Linked DNA regions of Homo sapiens. The protein of the gene in region 2 purifies or fractionates together with the protein of the main gene of each other region. This does not show direct contact. Each region holds a gene or a part of one and is shown on either strand. Other genes may lie near its edges. The genes, in order: CEP290, CEP76, CEP97, CCP110, CAMK2D, ZNF804B and KIAA0586.

The links.
Region 1: the proteins of CEP76 (region 2) and CEP290 purify together in Homo sapiens (co-immunoprecipitation; 5 studies listed by BioGRID and IntAct, with this or other methods). This does not show direct contact.
Region 3: the proteins of CEP76 (region 2) and CEP97 purify together in Homo sapiens (co-immunoprecipitation; 4 studies listed by BioGRID and IntAct, with this or other methods). This does not show direct contact.
Region 4: the proteins of CEP76 (region 2) and CCP110 purify together in Homo sapiens (co-immunoprecipitation; 4 studies listed by BioGRID and IntAct, with this or other methods). This does not show direct contact.
Region 5: the proteins of CEP76 (region 2) and CAMK2D purify together in Homo sapiens (affinity purification with mass spectrometry, with the first as the bait; one large-scale study listed by BioGRID). This does not show direct contact.
Region 6: the proteins of CEP76 (region 2) and ZNF804B purify together in Homo sapiens (affinity purification with mass spectrometry, with the first as the bait; one large-scale study listed by BioGRID). This does not show direct contact.
Region 7: the proteins of CEP76 (region 2) and KIAA0586 purify together in Homo sapiens (co-immunoprecipitation; one study listed by IntAct). This does not show direct contact.

Annotation. Positions count from the first base shown.
Region 1 is NC_000012.12:88,135,589-88,139,088, reverse strand, and holds part of CEP290 (centrosomal protein of 290 kDa), read left to right. Parts: intron 1-2,302; coding exon 2,303-2,446; intron 2,447-3,500. UniProt on the Homo sapiens protein: Involved in early and late steps in cilia formation. Its association with CCP110 is required for inhibition of primary cilia formation by CCP110.
Region 2 is NC_000018.10:12,696,224-12,699,723, reverse strand, and holds part of CEP76 (centrosomal protein of 76 kDa), read left to right. Parts: intron 1-520; coding exon 521-745; intron 746-2,315; coding exon 2,316-2,501; intron 2,502-3,500. UniProt on the Homo sapiens protein: Centrosomal protein involved in regulation of centriole duplication. Required to limit centriole duplication to once per cell cycle by preventing centriole reduplication.
Region 3 is NC_000003.12:101,731,114-101,734,613, forward strand, and holds part of CEP97 (centrosomal protein of 97 kDa), read left to right. Parts: intron 1-726; coding exon 727-840; intron 841-1,374; coding exon 1,375-1,541; intron 1,542-3,500. UniProt on the Homo sapiens protein: Acts as a key negative regulator of ciliogenesis in collaboration with CCP110 by capping the mother centriole thereby preventing cilia formation. Required for recruitment of CCP110 to the centrosome.
Region 4 is NC_000016.10:19,533,942-19,537,441, forward strand, and holds part of CCP110 (centriolar coiled-coil protein of 110 kDa), read left to right. Parts: intron 1-1,998; coding exon 1,999-3,500.
Region 5 is NC_000004.12:113,450,739-113,454,238, reverse strand, and holds the end of CAMK2D (calcium/calmodulin-dependent protein kinase type II subunit delta), read left to right. Parts: 3' UTR 1-3,207; downstream 3,208-3,500. UniProt on the Homo sapiens protein: Calcium/calmodulin-dependent protein kinase involved in the regulation of Ca(2+) homeostatis and excitation-contraction coupling (ECC) in heart by targeting ion channels, transporters and accessory proteins involved in Ca(2+) influx into the myocyte, Ca(2+) release from the sarcoplasmic reticulum (SR), SR Ca(2+) uptake and Na(+) and K(+) channel transport.
Region 6 is NC_000007.14:89,326,200-89,329,699, forward strand, and holds part of ZNF804B (zinc finger protein 804B), read left to right. Parts: intron 1-1,144; coding exon 1,145-1,275; intron 1,276-3,500.
Region 7 is NC_000014.9:58,465,719-58,469,218, reverse strand, and holds part of KIAA0586 (protein TALPID3), read right to left. Parts: intron 3,385-3,500; coding exon 3,190-3,384; intron 1,485-3,189; coding exon 1,297-1,484; intron 1-1,296. UniProt on the Homo sapiens protein: Required for ciliogenesis and sonic hedgehog/SHH signaling. Required for the centrosomal recruitment of RAB8A and for the targeting of centriole satellite proteins to centrosomes such as of PCM1.

The DNA.
Region 1 (3,500 bases), on a different chromosome or scaffold from region 2:
TTTCAAATTTTAAAATTATTGTTGGCTGGAAAAATTATAAGGATGATTGTAATCATGGTTATTTGTTTATTCTGTATATGTTCTACATGCCTATTATGTGCCTTATATAGTACTAAGGACTGAGCATATGGTTGTGAACAAAATAAGAAGTTAACTGCTGGATGGAGCTTATAGTCTTGGGAAATATACAGAAAGATTACTAGTAACTGAGGTGGAGGGTGGGTGGGGATTTGAGGAATAGTGACGAAAGGGTGTTATAGAAGTAATTTTTGACAAAGCTGAAGGCTAAAATATGAATGTATTGTTGAAGAACAAAATACATTGAGATTCCTGAGAAGGTAGGAATGTGATACAAATGGATCAGCCTTTGAAAGGAGGAATACCCTTTTCCTTTGTGTTAGGAGAGGAGGATGAGTGGATGAGCGTGGGAAGAGTGGATGTGTATAGAGGCTTTTATGTTTGTAGGCATAATGCTTGGAAGTTGAGGGGTTGGTGATGACATCTTCTGTTAAAAAGAGTGGGAAATGGTGTGGTCACATTTTAAGGAAATTAGGTAAAATTTGAAATATATTGGAGACAGGACTGGAGAGTTGGGGATCTGGAGTCAGACAGATTTGAGTTCTAGTCCTGATTCTTCTACTCGTTAACTCTCTGAACTTGGATGACCTATTGTTTTTGATTGTATATCCAGCTCCTGGGAAAATGCCAAGCACTTTCAATAAATACTAAATGAATTATGGAGTTGGATCAGTTCTGTGTTAGTGTTTAGCTAGGTAGCTGCTGTAGAATAGAAGGGTAGCACAGTTGAAGATATTGGTAGGAAAGTGGTTGAAGTGATGATTATGAAGTCTTAACTGAATAGATAAAATCAAGATTGGGGTTGGGTGGGCAGAAGGGTAGGGATATGGAGGGAGAAGATGAGGGGTTAGAGTGTCCTGTGAGGTCGAAGGACAGGCATAGTGGGAATAATTGAAAGAATGTTCTGGTTGGACAAGGATCTGATGTGGGTGTGGGAGTGAGAGACTATAGTGAATTCAAGAAAAAAATAGACTAGAACAAAAGTTATGTGGAGATTGCTTAGTGGGCATTTGATAGACATCTGTGGGCCACATGCTTAAATTCCCAGTGCATTTTGCGGAGTTACTGGAAGGTTGGTGGCTTGTTTCTACCATGAGTAGGTAAAGATGGAGAGCAGGATATTTTGTGAGAAAGCAGCTGAAGTTTCTATAGGATGATGGAGGAATGATAGGAATGATCACCTGAAGTTGCAGGGTGGGGTAAACCTAGAAGCACCAACACCTTCTTCTGACCCTCATGTATTTGGAATCTGAAAGAATGAGCACCTTCCAATTGAAAGAGTTCCAAGGGCATTAGTATACTAAAGGATCCAAATTGCAGCTAAGCCAAGGAGATGGAAAGGAGGATTCAGTAAAGAATCTGAGGATGTGAAATATTAATTTATCTTGGAAGAGAATTTTAGAGAGCACAATGGAATGCTTTTTGGAGGAGAGAAAGAGTAAGAACAATTTGGTTAAGGTAGAGGAATAACAGAACTATAAGGTGAAGAAATGAATGTGAGACACATTAGATGACCAAATGATTTGATGTTCTTGGCCATGACCTGAATTAACAAGACTGTGAGGTAAAATGGATTTAATCGGCTACAAATCTTAAGATAACCAAAACCTGAGCTGTTTAATATGGTAGCACTAGCACTAACCACTTGTAGCTATTTATATTTACATTGGTTAAAATTAAAATGAAAAATTTAGTTCTTCAGTTGCACTAGCCACACTTCAAATGCCCGAACATAGCTACATGTAGCGAGTGGCTATTGAACTGGACAGCACTGACAGCATGTCCATTATGCTAGAAAGTCCTATGGGACAGCACTGGTCTAAACAGTGCATGGTATGAGAGAAAGGGCAGGTTAAGGCACTCAGCTTCACTGACTGGGGTGGAGATTCTGATGGTTTGTACTCAGGTTCCAGATCCCTGAGGCTCAGGAACCTTTGCAGTTTAGTCTGGTTACCTGTGGCCCAGTGGTTACAACAGAATGATTAACAGTCAATTCTTTGCATCTCTGGGTGGCTCAGGAAAAATTTAAGGAGTTATTAGCTGTGAACTAACCTTAAGTAAGTTAAATTAAAAAAAAAAAAGTTCTTAAGCTAATATGATTTTAAATATCTGCACTGAAGTATAATGCAAATTTAAATTCAGCATAATTATTTGCTTGTTGTTGACTCATTTGAACCTCAAAATATAATGGGATTAATTTATACTTTGGGTTTATTACTTTAAGATGGCTCAGCAGTCTGCAGGTGGACGAGATACTCGGTTTTTACGTAATGAAATTTGCCAACTTGAAAAACAATTAGAACAAAAAGATAGAGAATTGGAGGACATGGAAAAGGAGTTGGAGAAAGAGAAGAAAGTTAATGAGCAAGTAAAGCACTTTTTTTTTCCATGAATCTTCACTGTTCAAGTTACCTGGCTTTTTATTATTATTGGTAACAATATCAATTTTTATATTGTATGTTATATTTGAAAAATGATGTACACTTATCTCTAAGGTTTTATATCACTGTTCATTTTGTCATCACCAATTTTAAAATATAATGGTACTTCTAGTGAATATGACTTGAAGATTAATTCTTTATATTTGGAAGTACATTTTTCTCAGGACATCAAACTTGTTACCTAAAATTAATGCTTTTGTCTGGAAGATTGGTATCAAGTAACTAATAGATTTTCATAAAGAAGTGATCTTTCTAGTGCCATAGTTTATTTTGGGTAAAAGTTATATTTGTTCATTTCAATGTATTTATATGATTAGTAGATTCGCAAATGAATCTTTCGATATATTCAATAATGGTTAATTAAATATCTTGTTTTTGGTTGTACCTTATTTTATGTGAGATATATATATATATGTATAGTTTTTGAAAAGTTGTGTTCATGTCAGCAGTTTATAAATCACATATTTAAAATAACATTTTTAATGCATAGTTTTTATTACCTCGTTATTCCTTGTTATAAACTAATAATTCTTGCAGTGTTCACTTGAATTTAGTTTTAGGAAAAAAGTTTTTTGCAGATCAACTTGTATTTCCTGGAAGAAAATTTCCTATTTTACCTCAGCTTCCTATTTAATGTATTATTTATTTATTTACTTAACATTTATTTGTTTTTTATTTCACCTGAACTGTTAGTAAACTTAGTAAAATTTGGTGCCTACATGTGGTAACTGTCCTGTCCCTTATACTCAGAAACGTTTTCCACCTTTGTGTCCTTTAGGTCATTGTTGTGTTATATTCCATTTATTTTATTTTGTCCATTGTTCTCTCAGAAATTGAGGGTCATACATTTTAAGAAAACAATGATATGCTATTTAAGAGAATGTATCATAAATTGATTTGTAAGGAAAAGTATCCCCATTCTTCATGTATGTATTTTACTCTAAAATGTTGAAGAATCATATAGAAGTTAGCTATGAAAAC
Region 2 (3,500 bases):
AAATACTTAAAATTTTATGGTTGGCTAAAACAGATTGTTTTGCATGAAGTATATCAGAAGAGTTAATGTATAGCACGGTAGAAGCAAAAACAGCATCACCAGTTTCTTGTGTTTTAATAATATGTTTTATAAAAACTGTACAGCCTTGCTTTTAAATATTAATATAATTGACAAATACACTTGCTGAATTGATAATTATATGAGTTGGTTTGTGAAGGTGGAGGAATGTTGGATAAGCAGTTAAAAAGCAAAAGTATACTACATATTGGCTCTGATGCCTTTTCCAGCTGGGAGAAAGTAGCCTGGATGTAAACTCAGAAAAGAATATCATATTTTGTGTATCTTCTCCCCAGAGTGCAAATGATTCTGGCATATACAGTAATAAATTTGTTACTCTTTTGCTTTTTTTTTAGTCTTTGGTATTGGGTTTTTATCTGTCAAGTTTTTATTTCCTAATGTCTTGATCACATTCTTTTAAGTTATTTGGCAGTTTCCTCATATATATTGCTACACTTTACAGCTAATATTGATCCAACACGGAGGTATCTTTACCTTCAGGTTTTGGGTGGAAAAGCTTTCTTGGAACATCTGCAAGAACCTGAGCCTTTACCTGGACAAGTTTGTTCAACGTTTACTTTATGTTTACATTATCGAAACCAACGTTTTCGTTCTAAACCTGTTCCATGTGCCTGTGAACCAGATTTTCATGATGGCTTTTTACTTGAAGTACACAGAGAAAGCTTGGGTAAGAAACAGTAATAAATTGTCATTTAATTGAGTAAATCTTTGTTATGTTTTATTGTGAAACAATAATAATGACTTTTTCTGTAAGGAGAGATTTATAATGGAGGAATCTCTATTTTGTTTCCCACTGCTCTTTTCAATTTAAACTACTATCCACCTTCTTGCAATATTCTGTTTGCTATTCATTTTCCCTGGATATTATTTTTTGACTGTTTTCATTGTTGATTCTTTAGTAATACACACTTAAATACCTATTATGTGCATAGTGTTATGCTAGGCAGGTGCTGGGATGATATAGTGGAAAATGAGACATGGTCCTTCTCATTTATAAAATATAACCAGATTGATGATGTTATGTAACTTTTAAAAGTCGAAGTTTAGGCTGAGCACGGTGACTCACAGCTGAAATCCCAACACTTTGGGAGGTCTAGGTGAGAGAATCATTTGAAGCCAGGAGTTCAAGACAAGTCTGGGCAAAGTGAGACATTGTCTCTACAAAAAATAAAAAATAGGCTGGGTGTGGTGGCTCATGCCTGTAATCCCAGCACTTTGGGAGGCCAAGGCAGGTGGGTCACCTGAGGTCAGGAGTTTGAGACCAGCCTAGCCAACATGTCGAAACCCTGTCTCTACTAGAAATACAAAATTTCTAGCCGGGCATGGTGGCAGGCGCGTGTAATGAGCCGAGATCACCCCATTGCACTCCAGCCTGGGCAACAGAGTGAGACTCTGTTTAAATAAATAAATAAATGAATAAATATTTATAAATTATTTATAAAAACTTCTAATAAATTTTTATAAATACTTACAAATAAATATAAATAAAATAAAAAGTCAAATTTAGATGTGAACATATAACTGTCATTTTAATTTTTTCTTTTTTTTCTTATTTCTCCAATAAAGCATGTAATTCTCATAACTAAATTTTATGCTACTTGATTCCTGTAATTGTTTTACACTATGTTTCTTTCAGTAAAGGTATTTTGTATTTTGTAATTGTCAGTATGGAAATCTTTATATTTGTAAACTAAGCAAAGTTTCAGAATGTCTTCACAATTTTAGATTTAAAGATGACTGAAACATTACTAAAATTTATTTTTTTCCCTTTGAAAGATGTTACCTTAATAAGGCAATTAATAGGATAAATTGCTAGATTCGATGTGCTGTATTTTTCAGTTGTATGTCAATTATACAGTGATAATTTCTGGAGGTTAAAGGGATTTCTTGAGGTAGTTTGGGGATTAATATTGACATACTTGAAGGCTTTTTATTGTAGTAGCATATACTTTAGTTAAGTACTTTTAAAGAACAGACTTATCTTATGAATCAGAAAGCACTGATATGCTGTAAGTTACTGGATAACTCATCACAATTTGCCAGTCTTCTGAAAAGTTAGTGATAGAAATAGGACTGTACTTGTATTTCCAGTTTTTTGCATGCTTTCTGAGACATTAGCAAATTGTTCTCTTTGGTTTTATATAAGCTTATTATTTACTGTTTAATAAAAGTATTCTTTTATGTTGGCCTAACTGAATATGTAGTGTGGTATAATTTCGTTTGGATTATATTGCTAGGTGATGGAACTAGAATGGCTGATTCAACAACAATGTTATCAATAAGTGATCCAATTCATATGGTGCTAATCAAAACAGACATATTTGGTGAGACGACTTTAGTAGCATCATATTTTCTGGAATGGCGATCGGTTTTGGGCTCAGAAAATGGAGTGACCAGTCTGACTGTGGAACTTATGGGTGTAGGTATGGTGATTAATATATCATTGTTAACCTTTTTATAGCCACAGTTCATTTGTAAATATATTTTATATCTTTAAAATGCTTTTATAATCCAAGAGGGAAACCTGTAAAATAGAATTTCGTTAGAGTTACAATTGGACCTCAGCATCCTAATCTTGAGAAATGTCTTGAAGAATAATATCAGTATAGCACTTCATGGTCAATCTGACCTTGTCTTAGGAGAAATGTTTTTTTCTGGAAAATGAATACAGGAATTTTGAGGGTTTTAATTTCAAGTTCATTTGATTAAATATAAGGCTATAAAGAAAATTAATATTCTTGACACACATACAAACTTATGTGTGTCCAGTCATCACACCCTGGAATACATCCCCTTTGGTACCAGTGATTCTTGCAAAATACAGAGTAGATGTTCTCCCAACCTTTTACAGTGTGGGTGAGTGAGACTCGGAAGAGGAAATAATTTGCTCAGTGTTAGTATCAACTAGTCCTTGAGGGCAGAGCTGGTGCCTATCTTATTTATCATAGTCTCCTTGGAATCTTGCACACTGCCCGCTATGTAACACATACTTGCTAATAAAATGAGAAAACAAAACCTACCAATGTTTTATCTATAACATATAATGGAATTACTTTGGTTTTTAAACTTAGTCACAGAGTTAAACCTTGCCAGTGGACAGCATAGCCTTAGTAATTTAGATTATTATTATTATTATTATTATTTGAGATGGAGTCTCGCTCTGTCACCAGGCTGGAGTGCAGTGCTGCAATCTCGGCTCACTGCAACCCCCGCCTCCTGGGTTCAAGCGATTATACTGGCTCAGCCTGCTAAGTAGCTGGGACTACAGGCATGCACCACCACACCCAGCTAATTTTTGTATTTTTAGTAGAGATGGGGTTTCACCATGTTGGCCGGGATGGTCTCGATCTCTTGACCTCGTGATCTGCCCGCCTCGGCCTCCCAAAGTGCTGGGATATTGGCGTGAGTCACCGCGCCCAGCC
Region 3 (3,500 bases), on a different chromosome or scaffold from region 2:
GAATACAGTTGCAATTATGGATGTAGGTTATCACTCTCTTTTTTGGAAAATTTGCTTTATATGTGGTTGTTTTAATGACTTTTTTTTTTTTTTTTTTTTAATTTGAGACATCAGAGTCTTGCTGTCACCCAGGCTCGAGTGCAGTGGTGCAGTCATGGCTTACTATAGCCTCGACCTCCTGGGCTCAAGTGATCCCCCTACCTCAGCCTCCCCAGTAGCTGGAAATACAGGTGCACCTCATCATGCCTGGCTAATTTTTTGATTTTTAGTAGAGACCAGGTCTCACTATGTTGCCCAGGCCGGTCTCAAACTCCTGGGCTCAAGCAATCTTCCCTCCTTGGCCTCCCAAAATGCTGGGATTACAGGCATGAGCCACCACACATGGCCTCTATTTTGATATTTTAAAAGAAAATGAAAAAGTGTGTTAGAAATTGCTCAGTGTCTCATAAGTTAAATCTCACAGCATGCCTAGTTGCTATGCCAAGCATGTGTTTTTGGACAAGTCTTTAAAATATCATGAGCTTAGGATGTTGGTATGAAAACAGAGAGTTGGACCAGAAGATCATCAAGGACCCTTGTAGCATTAACAGTCTTTGATTTGTGTGTGATGAGAAATATAATAAAGTAGATTCCTTTATTCTTATATGTACCATTTTGGTGTTGTCACAATAGGCCAATTTATTTGTAATCTTTTCATTTGTAATTCATACTGTTTTTACTTTCAAGACCCTGCTTTTACATGGAAACATCATCACCTCTCTTAGAATGGCACCTGCTTACCTACCCAGAAGTCTTGCTATACTTTCTTTGGCAGAAAATGAAATCCGAGACTTAAATGAGGTAAAATTTGAGGGTATTTTGTGAGATTCAGGAAGCTGGAAATCCTAGGAAAGACACAGGAGAGGGTTGTGAGCTTACTTTTAGACTGTGAGCATCTTGGAAGAAACTGCCATTCATATGAAATGCTTGGCTCTAGATCTTTCCACTTTTCCTTAGTGTCAGTGGGTCATTAAGGTCTAATTTCCTTTGTAAAGCTGTAATTATCATTCCACTGGGAGGCGATTGGTGGTAGAGGGACATCTACGTTATAAGGGTTTATAAGACTCCCTGTCCACCTTTCCTGGCTGCTGTGATGTTTTCAAAATAGGGTTATTTCTGCTAGGAAACAGTGCTGATATTTGCCAGGGGATTTTGTGCAGCAGGGACAGATGGCTATATTGTTGAAACTTTGGAAGTCAATGGACACTTGTCACTTTTCAGAACAAGAGGGAAATTATCACATTCTCAAATGCTGCCAAAGATATGTAATCAGTGGAAATTTTGTGCTTGACACTGAATAGTCCTTTTGTTCAACAAAGATATCTTTTGTTCCAGATCTCTTTTTTGGCATCCTTAACTGAATTGGAACAGTTGTCGATTATGAACAATCCTTGTGTGATGGCAACACCATCCATCCCAGGATTTGACTATCGGCCGTACATCGTCAGCTGGTGCCTAAACCTCAGAGTCCTAGATGGATATGTGATTTCTCAGAAGGAAAGGTAAACATGTGCTCTTTAACATCACAAATGTTACTGAAAAGACCATTTCTAGTTTACTACAGATTAATAGAGTATTTCTTAAAATGTGCATTTAGATAACAAGAGTATTAGTGCAGTCATGTAGCAGACTATATGCTGGTCATTTAGGATTTTCTGTCATTTCTAAAAAAGGATAAGAAATAAATATTGGCCTGGTGCAGTGGCTCATGCCTGTAATCCTTGCACTTTGGAAAGCCGAGGCAGGAGGATTGCTTGAGCCCAGGAGTTTGAGACCAGCCTGGGCAATATAGGGAGACCACATCTCAAAAAAAAAAAAAAATTAGCTGGGTGTGGTGGTACACACCTGTAGTCCTAGCTACTTAGGAAGCTGAGGTGGGAGGATTGCTTGAGCCCAGGAATTTAAGGTTACAGTGAGCTATGGTTGTGTCATTGCACTCTACCTTGGGTGACAGAGTGAGACCCTGTCTCTGAAAAAAAAAGAAGAAATCTCGGCCCCAGAGATTGGAGCTAGTAGTCTTAGTGCCCTACATACAACAATTTGATTTCTAAAAGTTCTTTTGTTAATCAGTTGTTTGGAGCTTGGAACACTTTTGCTTAGAAACCATCATGTTATAGATCCTGTGTAGGATCTCAGATCAGTCTCACAAAAGCTTGTAATATATTAATCTATCACATATATAAGGGCCGTATTTTTTATTCATTTTATTTTCTATTTTATCATCCAGCTCCAAATGCCATGTAAGGGCAGTATTAGTAGTATCTTAGAATTCTCCAAATACTCATTATAATGATAACTCTGGGAAAATGCAGAGTTTTAATTTGGAACTAGTAGCAGATGTGGTGATTGGTCCTCCTCTTCTTTTTTTTTTATTTTTTTATTTTTTATTTTTTTTTGAGACGGAGTCTCGCTCTGTCGCCCAGACTGGAGTGCAGTGGCGGGATCTCGGCTCACTGCAAGCTCCGCCTCCCGGGTTCACGCCATTCTCCTGCCTCAGCCTCCCGAGTAGCTGGGACTACAGGCGCCCGCCACTACGCCCGGCTAATTTTTTGTATTTTTAGTAGAGACGGGGTTTCACCGTTTTAGCCGGTATGGTCTCGATCTCCTGACCTCGTGATCCACCCGCCTCGGCCTCCCAAAGTGCTGGGATTACAGGCGTGAGCCACCGCGCCCAGCCTTTTTATTTTTTTTGAGACTGAGTTTCACTCTTGTTGCCCAGGCTGGAGTGCAATGGCGCGATCTCTGCTCATCACAACCTCCACCTCCTGGGTTCAAGCGATTCTTCTGCCTCAGCCTCCCAAGTAGCTGGAATTATAGGCATGTGCCACCACACCCAGCTAATTTTGTATTTTTAGTGGAGGCAGGGTTTTTCCATGTTGTTTAGGCTGGTCTCAAACTCCTGACCTCAGGTGATGCGCCCGCCTCGGCCTCCCAAAGTGTTGGGATTACAGGCATGAGCCACTGCACCTGGCCAGGTTCTCCCCTTCTTATACCTGTGAAGCAGCAGAAGCAAGAATTCCCCCACCTGTAAATCATTAATAGTTTCTGTGGCTTGGAGCTGGGATCCCTGCAGAATGGAGTCTTCTGGACCCTGATACCTGATCAGTGGAATGAGAGCTTTAGGGGAGGTAAGGAACTAGGATATGGGAAGGAGGGAGTGGAATTGGGATAGTGAGAGTTGAGATGACTTTATTCTGTCTACTATGCTTCATTTAACTTTTTTCTCTCAGTACATACACACATGCATTATGGACTCAACACATACATTATCCCTCGCCTTTTTTTGTTCTTCTCTACTACAGACAGTAGTTACTTCAGGAGTTTCCTGATGGGAGGACGGGTGGTAGATTACAGACAGCGTCTCCCTTCTCTGTCTCTCTGCTGTTTTGTATAGTTTCTGAGTAAAGCACAGGGCCGTGAGGAATGGCAGCCAAGAGCTAGATAGTGGTGGTGCTGGTGTA
Region 4 (3,500 bases), on a different chromosome or scaffold from region 2:
AATCCCTATGTAATGAGTCTTCAGAATCTGATGAAAAAGTCAAAGGAATATATAGAAAGAGAACAATCTAGACGCAGGCTGAGAGGTAGTATTAAGAGAATTGTTAATGAGAGTCATAGTGACTCTCATGTGACATAGTTGAGTTTGGGGTCCTGAGATATTATTTCCCTTTCACAGTAGTATATAGTGTGTGGGTAGTAGATTTCATTTTGCAGATTATAATTACTGTCCATATTAAGTTTAAAAAATGTATTGAGTAGCACTAATTTAACAATAAGAGGTAGGTTTTTTACTTACTACGTATTTCCTGTGATTGAAATGAAAATGGCATATCATTCTTGGTCCATTGAGGGAAGATAAAATATACTACTAATAAAATTGTTAAAAGAGCATGTATAATGTTGAACTGTAATGAATTAATTATTCAGATAGGAAAATTTTATATAATACAATTAGATTTCTGCTTCACCTGTAAAACCTAAGATTCTATGATAGATTTTTTTCTTGTTGTTATTTAACTTGTCTAACTAAAGGCTCATTTTAGTGACGTATAAACAACATAGCTTCCGAATATCACAAATGTGAAATATTTTACGTAAGGAAATCATCTGTTTTACTTAAACCTGTGAACATGTTCATGGATTTCATAAATATGCATCCTTTTTGTTTTATTTTGGTCCTGAGGCTGTGACTAAGTATGTCTTGTACTCTTGTACTGTTGATTGCATAGTACCTGGAAACCTTTTTGCATCTTTTTTGTTTTATTTTGGTTCTGAGGTTGTGACTAAGTATGTCTTATTGTACTGTGTATTGCATAGTACCTGGAAACCATTACCTGTCTTGGGATTTGTAACGTAAAATAGGAGAGCCATGTGGTCTAGAAAAAAACAAGCACATTCAAAACAACCAAAAAATATTGTAATATTCAGACTTTTTTTTTTTTTTTTTTTTTTTTCTGAGATGGAGTCGCGCTCTGTCGCCCAGGCCGGAGTGCAGTGACGTGATCTTGGCTCACTGCAAGCTCCGCCTCCCAGATTCATGCCATTCTCTTGCTTCAGCCTCCTGAGTAGCTGGGACTACAGGTGCCCACCACCAAGCCCAGCTAATTTTTTGTATTTTTAGTAGAGATGGAGTTTCACTGTGTTAGCCAGGATGATCTTGATCTCCTGACCTCATGATCCGCCCGCCTCGGCCTCCCAAAGTGCTGGGATTACAGGCGTGAGCCACCATGCCCCGCCAGTAGTCAGGCTTTTGATGTCTGTATTCATATGATAATACAATGATTTTTGCCAGTTTAATATACGGATGTATAATTACCTTTAGAAACTATCCTAGTTCTCTTTTTATTCTTTTGCAAAGTTGGATTATTTAGATACAAAATATCTATTTTTACATTCATTCATTCATTCATTCATTCATTTTTGAGACAAAGTTTAGTTAAACTTTGGAGTAAGCATGTAGGTGCAGGAGTCTTATTACTGAATCATTTTTGCTTAATCAATGTCCTGGACAAGTTAGTCTTTGTTAGAGAGGGAATCGTTTACGTAAGACATTTCATTACTTGCTGTTTATTGCATATATTATTATCCTTGGATGATAGCTATCCTAGGAGGAACAGTTGGTAATGTTAATAACATATGACTAGAAGAAATTTAAGTGCTTGTATTCTAAGATTAAATTGCACATGGATATATGAATATATGTGTGTGTGTATACACATATATATGTTCATATTTGTATCAGATTAGATGTTTCTTTTTATAACTCTTTTATAACTCTTTTAATAACTTAGGCAGGATGACCAGTAGGCATCTTTTCAATAATAATTTGAGCCCCCTGTGATACAGGATACCGTAGAAACCTGTCATCTTAGTTTTTCTTTATGTTTTGAAATGTCAGAATTCTGAATTTTCAATTTCAATTTTATTTTAGAAAACAGTGAAATCAGAGACTTTTTGTGCAATGAGGAAATATTAATTTTTAAATTTCCTGTTTCAGGTTAGAAAAGCACCTAATGCCAGTGATTTTGATCAGTGGGAGATGGAAACAGTTTACTCTAATTCAGAAGTCAGAAACTTGAATGTTCCTGCTACATTTCCAAATAGCTTTCCAAGCCATACGGAACACTCTACTGCAGCAAAGCTTGATAAGATAGCTGGGATTTTGCCATTGGATAATGAGGACCAATGTAAAACTGATGGAATAGACTTAGCTAGAGATTCAGAAGGATTTAATTCTCCGAAGCAATGTGATAGTTCCAATATTAGTCATGTAGAAAATGAAGCTTTTCCAAAGACCTCTTCAGCAACCCCACAAGAAACTCTTATTTCTGATGGTCCCTTCTCAGTAAATGAACAACAGGATCTACCACTTTTGGCAGAAGTCATCCCAGATCCCTATGTAATGAGTCTTCAGAATCTGATGAAAAAGTCAAAGGAATATATAGAAAGAGAACAATCTAGACGCAGTCTGAGAGGTAGTATCAACAGAATTGTTAATGAGAGTCATTTAGACAAAGAACATGATGCTGTTGAAGTGGCTGACTGTGTAAAAGAGAAAGGCCAGTTGACAGGCAAACACTGTGTCTCAGTTATTCCTGACAAACCAAGCCTTAATAAATCAAATGTTCTTCTCCAAGGTGCTTCCACTCAAGCAAGCAGCATGAGTATGCCAGTTTTAGCTAGCTTTTCGAAAGTGGACATACCTATACGAACTGGCCATCCCACTGTTCTAGAGTCTAATTCTGATTTTAAAGTTATTCCCACTTTTGTTACCGAAAATAATGTTATCAAAAGTCTTACAGGTTCATATGCCAAATTACCTAGTCCAGAGCCAAGTATGAGTCCTAAAATGCACCGAAGACGTTCCAGGACATCATCAGCGTGTCATATACTTATAAATAACCCAATAAATGCCTGTGAATTAAGCCCTAAAGGAAAAGAACAGGCAATGGACTTAATTATTCAAGATACTGATGAAAACACAAATGTGCCCGAAATTATGCCAAAGTTACCAACTGATTTAGCGGGAGTTTGTTCAAGCAAGGTTTATGTGGGCAAAAATACATCTGAAGTCAAAGAAGATGTGGTTTTAGGTAAATCAAATCAGGTATGTCAATCTTCAGGAAATCATTTAGAAAATAAAGTTACTCATGGACTTGTTACTGTGGAAGGTCAGTTAACATCCGATGAGAGAGGCGCACACATAATGAACAGTACCTGTGCTGCGATGCCAAAGCTGCATGAACCATATGCCAGCAGTCAGTGTATAGCAAGTCCAAACTTTGGAACTGTGAGTGGACTCAAGCCAGCCAGTATGTTAGAGAAAAACTGCAGTTTGCAAACAGAACTGAATAAGTCTTATGATGTAAAAAACCCTTCTCCTTTATTGATGCAAAACCAGAATACGAGACAGCAGATGGACACACCTATGGTGTCCTGTGGAAATGAACAATTTTTGGATAACAGTTTTGAGAAAGTTAAACGGAGACTTGATTTAGA
Region 5 (3,500 bases), on a different chromosome or scaffold from region 2:
ACAACTCTTCATCAAGTTTCTCTGTTAATGCCAAGATTTAACAGACTTAAGAACTATTGTTCTCTGAATGACAGTTGTAAGAGAAATGTAAATTTTTTAGAACTCTTTGCTGTTAATCTGTTTTGGTTTGTTTGGTTTTTTTTTTTTTTTTTAAGGTAAAAAAAAAATACACCTTCAGTTTCCTGGTGTGATCCTGGTTAAAATGGATGATTTTTCATTGAAAGTTTTGCTGATTAACAATTAAAGTGGGATGATATGTGGGCAAAATCACTTATGAAAGTAGAAGCAAGAATCAGTTGGTTTGCTACCACATAAAGCCATGCTGTTTTTGGTCAAACTGTGTAAACTGGAAAAATTCACATCATTTCTGAGTTTAATCACTTTAGGATATATTCACATTGTTTTGGTGAATTTGCTGAATTGAATTGTTTTTCTTTCTCAAATCTGTGATCTCTTTTCTTTATCCTGTTTCTTTGTTCCTTTCGTTTGCTTTCTTATTTTTCTTTTGTTCCATTCTTTTCTTACTTTTTTCCCTTTTCCTTTTTTGGGGAGGCTGGCTAGTAGTGTGTGAGAAAAGAATAGAAGTGAAATTTGCATAATGAATGTAAAAGGGAAATAAAAGTCTTTTGAAGGTAGCTATACTAGCACTTTTGATCATCTTCAGGGCCCACAAAAATGTTGTCAAGATTTTAAAGGTTTATAATTCTGCTTAAGCTCTAGTTTGGACTTAGGTATCCTAACTATGTTGGAGGTATTTGCATTGTTTAAAGTTAGGATAAAAGCAAGTTCCTCCTGTGACTGCAACGTCTTACTGATTGGGACAGTTGCCAGGAGGATACCAACTTGATAGCAGAGGGGGTTTTATGCAAACGCACTCACCTCCGCCTTGGGGAATGAAAGGGTCACTTCTGCATCATCACTAGCTAGTTTTCTAGTGTTAGAGAGGCTTACAAATGTTTGCCATTCTCATAAGTGTTTTGAACTTGATCTTTGTGACTTGTGCTTTTTTAGCTTCTCTCTTGAATCAGAGTATCATTGTCTTCCTCCAAGGAGTTAGAATTTCCCAGTTTAAAACAAAAAGGGAAATGTCCTAGGTTTTCTTTGTGCTTCTCATTTTTCCTTTGTTGATTCAATTCCTGTGATTTTTGTTCTCTTCCCTGAAGTGCTTTACAGTGCATGGAATCTCCATCATTGTTATTTTAACGATAGTAATTCACAGTCCTCAGAAGCCTATTTTTAAAGCAGAAGCAAAAAAGAAAAACAAAATAACAAAAACAACCCTTCCTCTTTTCTCTCATCTCACCTCTCTGTGTTGATTACTAATCATCTTAGATATTATTGCTAGTGGATGTATGGTAGATGGGTTGAAGCTTTTCTGATAATTATTACACAATTTAAAACAACATATATATTTAAAATAAATATATACAGTAAATATATTGAGCCATGTTAACCTGCCAATGAGATCTGTGAAAAAATAATGGCCTCATTTTTCTCTTTTTAATTTCTTTTACCCTTTTGTGAAGCAGCTATACGTGGCATACATGTATTTAAAGAAAAAAAAATAGATGTAGAGTGTTTTTTTTACACTTTTAACTTAGCATGTGGTGTTGAAGTATTACTGTAGATCAAGTTTGTCTTCCGCACTAAGATGTGAGGAAATTGTGATTTGTTCTCTCCACCACAAATGAATTACACATTTATTATCTTCTATCATTTTGAAACACTGCAGTTTACCATGGGACACTGTATATATTTCTTGCCATAATGGTAAAGGACTGATTGATATATTTAAGAGTTAATAAATTTGTGATTTCTGCTGACAGTGCGTCCATCTTTATTTCTTCAGAAGAGGTACTGTATGTATGCCTGCATAGTGCTGGCCAGTGTCAAGGGCAGTGTGTCCTACTCTGGTCTCATTTAGTACATAACAATTTGCACTTGGTGAGAATGGCAAGTTAATTGTTCTCTGTGAGCAAAACAATGGTCTCTTCTGGGAAAATGTTGCTGAGAACAATATAGTTAACAACTAAGACTCCTAAAAGCTTCTCTAAACTGTACCCTCCAATCCAGCCTTCACATGGCTGCTTTTTTTTTTTTTTTTTAATACGAACCTGTCCTTGTAACACTTTGATGTTATCATTTCTGGGATACAGGCAAGCACCCCAGCTCCTGCTACTCCCCAGCTTGAACTTGAGCATACATGGATGCTCAGCTTCTTTTGATTTGCTAAAAACATCACACTTGCTCACATGCCTGTTTATGCTGTTCATGTTGTTTATGTTTCTTACCTAGAATAAATAGTCTCTTCCCCTACTTCTTTTCCCGACTTCTTACTTTTTCCTAAGATTCAGTGTACAGCATCATGCTCCACAGCAAACCTTCCTAGGCCCTATTCTGGGCTTGCCTTCCCTCTCAAAACCTACATAATAGATTGTATTTACCTCTCCTGTCAACCACATTGTTTTGAAAATATATTTCTATTTGTGTCTCCTCTACTGCAGTATAATGTCTCCATGGGCAAGAACTGTGTATTCATCATTGCATTCCTAAACCCAAACCAAGGCCAGGAATGGAGATATCATTGATAAATAGTTGTTGAATTGAGGCCAAGCCCTTTTGATAACAGAAGCCTCAAGGGGTACCCAGATAGTCCTTGTTTTAATGATGGGTTCTCTCACCACTGTCTTGATGCTCTGAGCAAGTTACCTCTTCCCTCTGACCCTCAGTTTCCATATTTGTAAAATGAGAATAAACATACCAACTTAATAAAGATATTGTGAGGATTAATGGGTACAGAGTGACTAGAATGATATTTGATAGAAATTAAATGGTAGCAGTATAACTATTCTGATCACTGACATTAATATTCCTATTGTTATTATTCTTTGCTCACGAGGGTATACAACTCTTGTTTTGCTGTTGGGCTGCCCTCTTTATGTAGGTTTACTGTTAATGCTGAGGATATACTCGGACTCAAATGTCTCAGCAGAAGGCTGAGAGACACCAAATGAAGTGGTCATCTAGCTGAATGTAGGAAAAATGAAATGTAGTAGCAAATCAGTATATTCTAAGGAAATTTTCAAGGAATATTAATCTTCACCCAAATTTTGAATTTTTATGTAAAAAATTATAATTTAAGGGTAAACATAGATGACACAGCTTTCGAGTGATTTCATTGAATAAAATTCTACTGACTTCTATGAACCTTTCATGGCTCTGTGGTCTTTTTATCAGATTTTTTAAAGGTGAGAATGTACAAAAAGATTACAATGAAGATCAGCGTACTAGACCATGTGTCCATGAACTGAACAACAGCTGTCATAAACCACCCTAACCTGAGAAAGCAGCAGGAAGCATTTACAGCATTCCTGCTTTTCTCTCAGACAAAACCAATTCTCAGAAGAGAGCTAGAATGTTCTCCTGCAGACTGGAGTAGGAAAAGTTGATAACAGATTAAGCAGTAATTGTACTCCAGAAGGATTTGCATTTAGGCTTTT
Region 6 (3,500 bases), on a different chromosome or scaffold from region 2:
CTGTAGCTGTTTCTAATTCCGTGAGGTTCTTGTTCTTTGTGCTGAGAATATTCTCTCTTTGAAAGACCGATCTGCCTTCTTCTTCAAATCCTTAGCTTAGATGTAGTTATCTCACCACTGTCTACCATGAGCATGTTTCATTTAAAGAATGAAGCTAATGAAAGGTTTTGGCCCTTGCTCTGCAAGTGAGTAACAGTCGGCTCCAGTATTATTACGTCACATGATAACTATGTAGTTTTCTCCATACCTGGGAAACATCTCTTATACTTGATATGGGAAGTGAAAATAATTTCAACAGATACAGATTTTAGACTGTTTAAAATCACTTTGTATGAGTTAAGAGGATAATCTTTAAATACACTTCCAATTCAGGATTAAGCCCCAAACTTCAAGAGGTTCATTTGATTTTGGCTGTTTCTCAGTTCATTCAATATCATTAGCTGTGCTTAGTGGCAGATTCTTAAGAAGAGGTCTTACTTGCATGTAAGTCAATTGTTTTAGAGAAAATATTAATTAAAATAAGTGGTGAGTGAATTTAAATCAAGCAGGGCCATGCCTCTATTCTGAGTTTAAATCCCTGACTCATTTTTTTCTGTCTTCCTGGATACAATATAGAAATATGTATTTGATAAATATCTCCATCCAGAAAAATGAATTCAAAATCACATTTAGAGCTTTGAACCAAATCTTTCACAGTAACAGATGCTCTTTCCTGAAACAAGCTTATTCCACCCAGTGTATTTAATAGCATCACTTTTACAAGTGAGGGGCAGGTGGGTGGAAGAACATGCATCTCATAACCTGCCTCCCTTCATACTCATTCATATATTGCATGTTTTTCCCATTTGTGTTTTTATAAGCACACAGATTATTATACTTGCATAGCCAGGGTGATACCAGCGAGGCCTGGGGCCCAGCTTTGCAGTGACTGTGACAAGCTTGGAAAAATAACCTGGTTGACAACACATTTATCTGCTAAATGTGTCTTGGAGCAGAGAATAGCAACAATGGAGAAGATACTTTTACTCTTTCTGCCCAGAAAGTCACCTCTGCACTTAGGATAAAGAATAATAAGGAGCCTTGTGGATGGAAAAGAATATATTATTTATTTATAGTACCTTTTTGGTTTTTCTTCTTTTTCAAGAGACTGAAAGAATTAAAGCAACGGGAATTTGCTCGAAATGTAGCTTCTAAGTCATGGAAAGATGAGAAAAAACAAGAAAAAGCACTTAAACGACTTCATCAGCTGGCTGAGTTAAGGCAGCAATCTGAATGGTAAGAATTAAAGGTGTCTGGGATGCTTCAAAACTCTCGTCAACCTATGGGGAAATTTTAAAGGCAAATCTACTGTAACAATGTAAACAAATAATAACTAACTAATAGATATGTCTGAAGGGCAAATATAGTTAAACATACATAAATTAATAACTTTTGGCCTTTGATATTTTTCTTTCCTAATATTGTTAATTTAATGTACTCTATAATGAAATGATCCCAGAATGATTCAAATACATTAGCATTTATTCTATCCAGTTGACTAAATGGATTAATATCACTTCTTAATATATTTTTTAAATTTTGTAATAATAATTTTAAAAACCATAATTAACAATATATCTTAGGGGGTGGGGAATAAGTCTTCTGAACATTTCCGTGTACACACCTGTGTCTAGTACAAATAACACGATCATTGTCTGGCTGACAAACAAGATGTAATTAATGCAGTTAAATTTACCACACAGTGCCATTTAAATTGATAATTATAATATAACAAGTTTTATACTAATACATTCTTGTAGCTGAAAAATAGCAGTTTTACCAAAGCTTGGAACCACTGGATGTTTCAAAGTTGTTACCTGGAATGCAATTAAATTTGTGGATTGTGATTTGTGTTCATATGAATCATAATGTAAAACACTAATGTAGCTAATTAATGTGTTTGACAGCAACCTAGTGAATTGTGAAACTTATGCCTCTGTGCCAGAATTTAAACACCTATTGCTTAAATGGAAAGTAATATATAATAAACAGGAGTGAGTGGCTCAATTAGTTACCACAAAATATTAGACTTAAAAGGTAATTTTAAGGAAACATTTATTTTTGTAGGACCAATTATGAGTAAAAATGCAATTAATATTCAGCTTGCATGTATTTATTTATAACTTTTAGAATAATCTAATTAATTTATGAAAATACATAAAAGATAATCATATTAACAAGAAATGAGAAATTTCATATGAAGACAAAATAAAGGTACAACATGTAGCCAGAAGTAAGGTTAATACAAAAATGCATGCTCTGGGGTCTTATACAACTCTAGAAGCAACGCATACATTTGGTACTGAGCTTTCTACAGCCAACACAATGAGGGACTTACAATATGTTGTGCAAACATACTGTTAATGAGAACTCAGTCCTTGCCAAAATAGGGCTTAGAAGGAAAAGTTCTATTGTTGTTAGGGTAGCATGCAGGAAAAAATCTAGGGAAAGTGTTAATTCCTGTGATTAATAAGGAGATGCAGTAAGTCAGATCATAACAAATGGTACAAGTTCTAACATAGATATACGTCTTTAGACAGGTCCCTTAAGGGCACAACAGTAAATCTAAATAGTCTTAACAAATATAATTTTGGTTGTTTGTTATTATGAAAGTTGTCACACTTCTACATTTCTGCTTACCCATTCTATATTTTCCTCTGGAGTAAATAACAAAGAATCAGAGGTGCCTTGCTGATGGCAGTGGTCATGGTGATGGTGATGATGATAATGATGCTGATGATGATAATGATGCTGATGATGATAATGATGGTGATGATGATGGTTTATTTAGAAGTTCCAAGTTTGCTAGAGCTACCCATTAAGTTTCTTTCAAATAAAAAGGTCCACTCTATTAAGTTTCAGCTGTCCCTCTGGAAGCCTTATTCACTAAACAAACACAAACCTAACCACTCCTTTTGGTGATTTGATAAAATAGGCAAACTCTCTAGGTCACAATGTGCCCGTATTGTTATGGAAAAGACAAGTGTTCAGCTTTCTAGATATAGAGCCTGAAACTAGGAAAATAATTTTTTTTTATCGTCTACTGCCCATCACCTGCCTCTTAGCCAATTGCTCTCTCTGCTTAAACAGACTCATGGTTGAAGGAAAGTCACTTAACAGAATTATTAAATACTTTATTTTAGTAGGTGAATTGACAAGTGAAAGTTAAAAATAAAATAAAAAGAAAAAATCACTGGCATTACCCTTCTCCTGGACAATCTTTTCTTTGTCCTTTTTCCTCATAATGAGGGCTTCTGAATAGGATGATCCAGGTAACACAATTCTTCTGTGACCCTTTGGGAGAAGAGAGGTGAATTTACTGGTAGTGCATAAAATGATGGCAAAAAAATGGTAACAGATCTTATAAAGGGTCATCAAATTTGACCGTCTCTTAACTAGTTCCAGCCAACCTGTTTCCTCAGCAATAGCAGTTATTATATGGGGCTGAGGGTTTAGTCCCT
Region 7 (3,500 bases), on a different chromosome or scaffold from region 2:
ACTATCAATTTTAGCTGCAGGGTGGAAGTCAATCTATGAGAACGAAGTGTTTGTGGAGCTACATGGGTGATTTCTAAGTCCCTGGGAATCTCTCAGGCTGGTGGGTTGAGGCTGTTCTGTATAAATTTGTGCAGAAGAAATGGATAGTTCGTTTGTTCAGGGAGGAGTGTCCAGTCAAAAATCAGTACTAAGAGCCTGTTGACTGTTCATGTGGTGGCATCCGACAGCTCCAGGATTATCTTCTCCTCAGTGATCAGGATCCAAGAATGAGGCAAGTCTTCTCTCTTCCCAGAGGGCATACTAAGTTGCCCAAGAAAACTCATTTGTCCTGGCTCAATCAAAAGAGGAACCTTGGAGCAGTCTAAGGACTGGAGTGTTCTAATTATTTGTAAGTAAGCAAGGATGGTAAGACGAATACAGGAGTTGGAGTAAATCAGCCAAAAAGTTTACCACAGTTCATGAATGCTTTCCTACAGTTGCCTCCTGACTGGTCAATAGAAAGTCGCATGTAAATACTCATGTTCACCTTTGTCCAGACCTAGTGAAGACCTCAGCTTCTACAGCTGGATCCCAGGCCGAAGGGTAGATGTTTGTGAAATGTCAAAGGGTTTCTTCCCACATGAGCCTGTTGAAGTCTTGTATTCATTCAAGTCTTCTAACATATGTTAGTGTAAAGTTTGAAGTATTAATTATATAAGTCACATATATTAACTTTTTAAAATTAATTATAATACACAGTTCAATTGTTCCCCTTGGAATATCACCAAGCCACTTGTATATAAGTCATTGGCCTAGAAGAGCAGCTTAAATCATGCAAAACAGGACAGAAACATCATATTAATATCACAGTTTTAAAAATAACAGAGCCAGCGGGGCATGGTGGCTCATGCCTGTAATCCCAGCACTTTGGGAGGCCAATGCAGGTGGATTCACCTGAGGTCAGGAGTTTGAGACAAGCCTGGCCAACATATGAAACCCCATCTCTACTAAAAAAAAATACAAAAAATTAGCTGGGCATGGTGGCGGGCGCCTGTAATCCCAGCTACTCAGGAGGCTGAGGCAGGAGAATCACTTGAACCCAAGAGGCAGAGGTTGCAGTGAGCCGAGATTGCGCCATTGCCCTCCAGACTGGGCGACAAGAGCAAAACTCTGTCTAAAAAATAAAAATAAATTTAAAAAAAAGAGTCATGATCAAAAGCAATATTTTTATGAAGCAATATAATGGATTTCCGTACTAACGTTAAGCAAAAAAATTTTTTCTTCCTTAAAATTTTCTACTCATGCACCCTGGCATACCTGCACAGTAAGCTGAGGAGGATCCTTTTTTTCTGACTTCATTTCTACAATGGCTATGTTAGGTTTCTTTACTCCAGTTTCTACTTTTCGAGATGATGGAGGAATAGAAGTAGTCACAGTTACAGGGTGTGGCTTGCTGACAATCACTCCAGCAGGTGGCATGGTATCACTATTACTTTGGGTTTGTCCTAAGAAGTTTAGGAGAAAAAATAAGTCAACTAGTTCAGAAAAAAAGGGAAAAGTCTAATATACCATCTGGATCTTAATGGCTATATTCTCATATTTAAAAAAGCCCTATCTGACAATCACCCCTCCCTCCATCATCAGCACTGTCGACATACTCACCATACCCAGTGACTTTTATTAAGCACTTATATGTACTCAACGCTTCACATCACTATCTAATTTAAACCTCAAAATAAAGGCTAATAGAAAGCTATTAATACTATCCACATTTTAAAATGTCAAAAACTTTCACTTCCAAAGTCCCACTTGACTTCTACATATCAAAGTAAAGAGGGGTAGTACAGTGTACTTGTTGAAAACACAGACTATAAAGCCAGACTGCCTCTGCCTGGGTTTGAATCCTGGCACCATTCTAGCTGTGTAGCCTTTGACAAATTATGTAACCCTTTTGTGCTTCAGTTTTCTTAGCTATACAATTTGTATATTACCATGTGCTTTATAGGGTGGATTAAATGAGAGAATATATGTAAAGTGCTCAGAACTGTACCGGGCACACAGTAAGAACTTTAAAAGTGTGAGCTATTTTATTACTAGGAGATATGTTTAAACAGAGAGCTATTATGTTGACATGAAATTAACCCATAATATCAAAAATAAAAAAGTCTCTTACATTAAAAAATATTCATACTTAAATTGTTAATCAAAACAAAAGAACAGCAATGACACTAAAGGGAAAAAAGAGCTAATTAGACTTGAACAGCTGGTGTGAGGACAAAAATGATCTGTTCAATTTTTAACATGAAGACTCAGAGAGAAGGCAAATAAGTAAATAAACAACTATTGGCTTAGATTACACACCCACACAGCTTTCACTTATGATAGCCTAGTTCAAAAGTACAAAAAAAAGTACCTTAATACTTCCCCAAAGACATAATGATATTAACAAGATAATCAAACTTATTGAATTATTATGAATGTCCATGACATATTTAAACTTTCTTTTTTAAGAGACAGGGTCTTGCTGTGTTGTCCAGGCTGGAGTACAGTGGCATAATCATTGCTCACTGCAGCCTCAAACTCCTGGACTGAAGGGATTCTCCTGCTTCAGCCTCCAGAGTAGCTAGGACTACAGGTGTTAGCCATCAAGCCCAGCTAATTTTTTTTTTTGAGACAAGGTCTTGCTATGTTGCCCAGGCTGGTCTCAAACTCTTGGTCTCAAGCAATCCTCCCATCTCGGCTTCCCAAAGTACTGTGATTAAAGGCATGAGCCACTGTGCCCAGCCAAAATATTGTTTAAAATTTCATTTCATCTACAATAATATAACATACCAAAAGAATTTTTCCTATTGGTGAAACTACAGCAGGAACCCATCATTTCAGAGATTGCTATTACACAGCATAAAATACATTGTGAGGCCTTCCCCACAAAAACAAATAACATTTACAAGAAAAGGTAGATGACTATCATGTTAGTACCATTTTGTAAGTTCTGCTACTGCTGATAAGAATTTAAAATTCAATGGCTGGGCACGGTGCCTCACGCCTGTAATCCCAGCACTTTGAGAGGTTGAGGTGGGTGGACTGCTTGAGTCCAGGAGTTCCAGACCACTCTGAGCCACACAGTGAAACCCCGTCTCTAATAAACACACAAACAAACAAATAAATAAATAAAATAAAATCCATCCCACATATTTTGTTGATTCTTACCTAAAAGAATTGCCATAGGAATCAGATGACCTTCCAATGTACCTGAAAAAGTAGGCATTTCTCTACTTGGGCTGAACAAATATTGCTGATCGCCATGAGGTAACACAGGAACAGAATGTTTCATTTTAGAATCCATCTTCTTAGGTTTTGTTGCATAGAAGTCAGTCTGTGTTCTTATTGACTTTACCTTAGTGCCTATAATAATCACCAATGGCAGATATTTTAAAATATTGTTAGAATATCTACTATCCAGACATCTAGAAATACAACAGCTCTTCACAGAAAAATCTTAATTCTATATAAGGTTACAA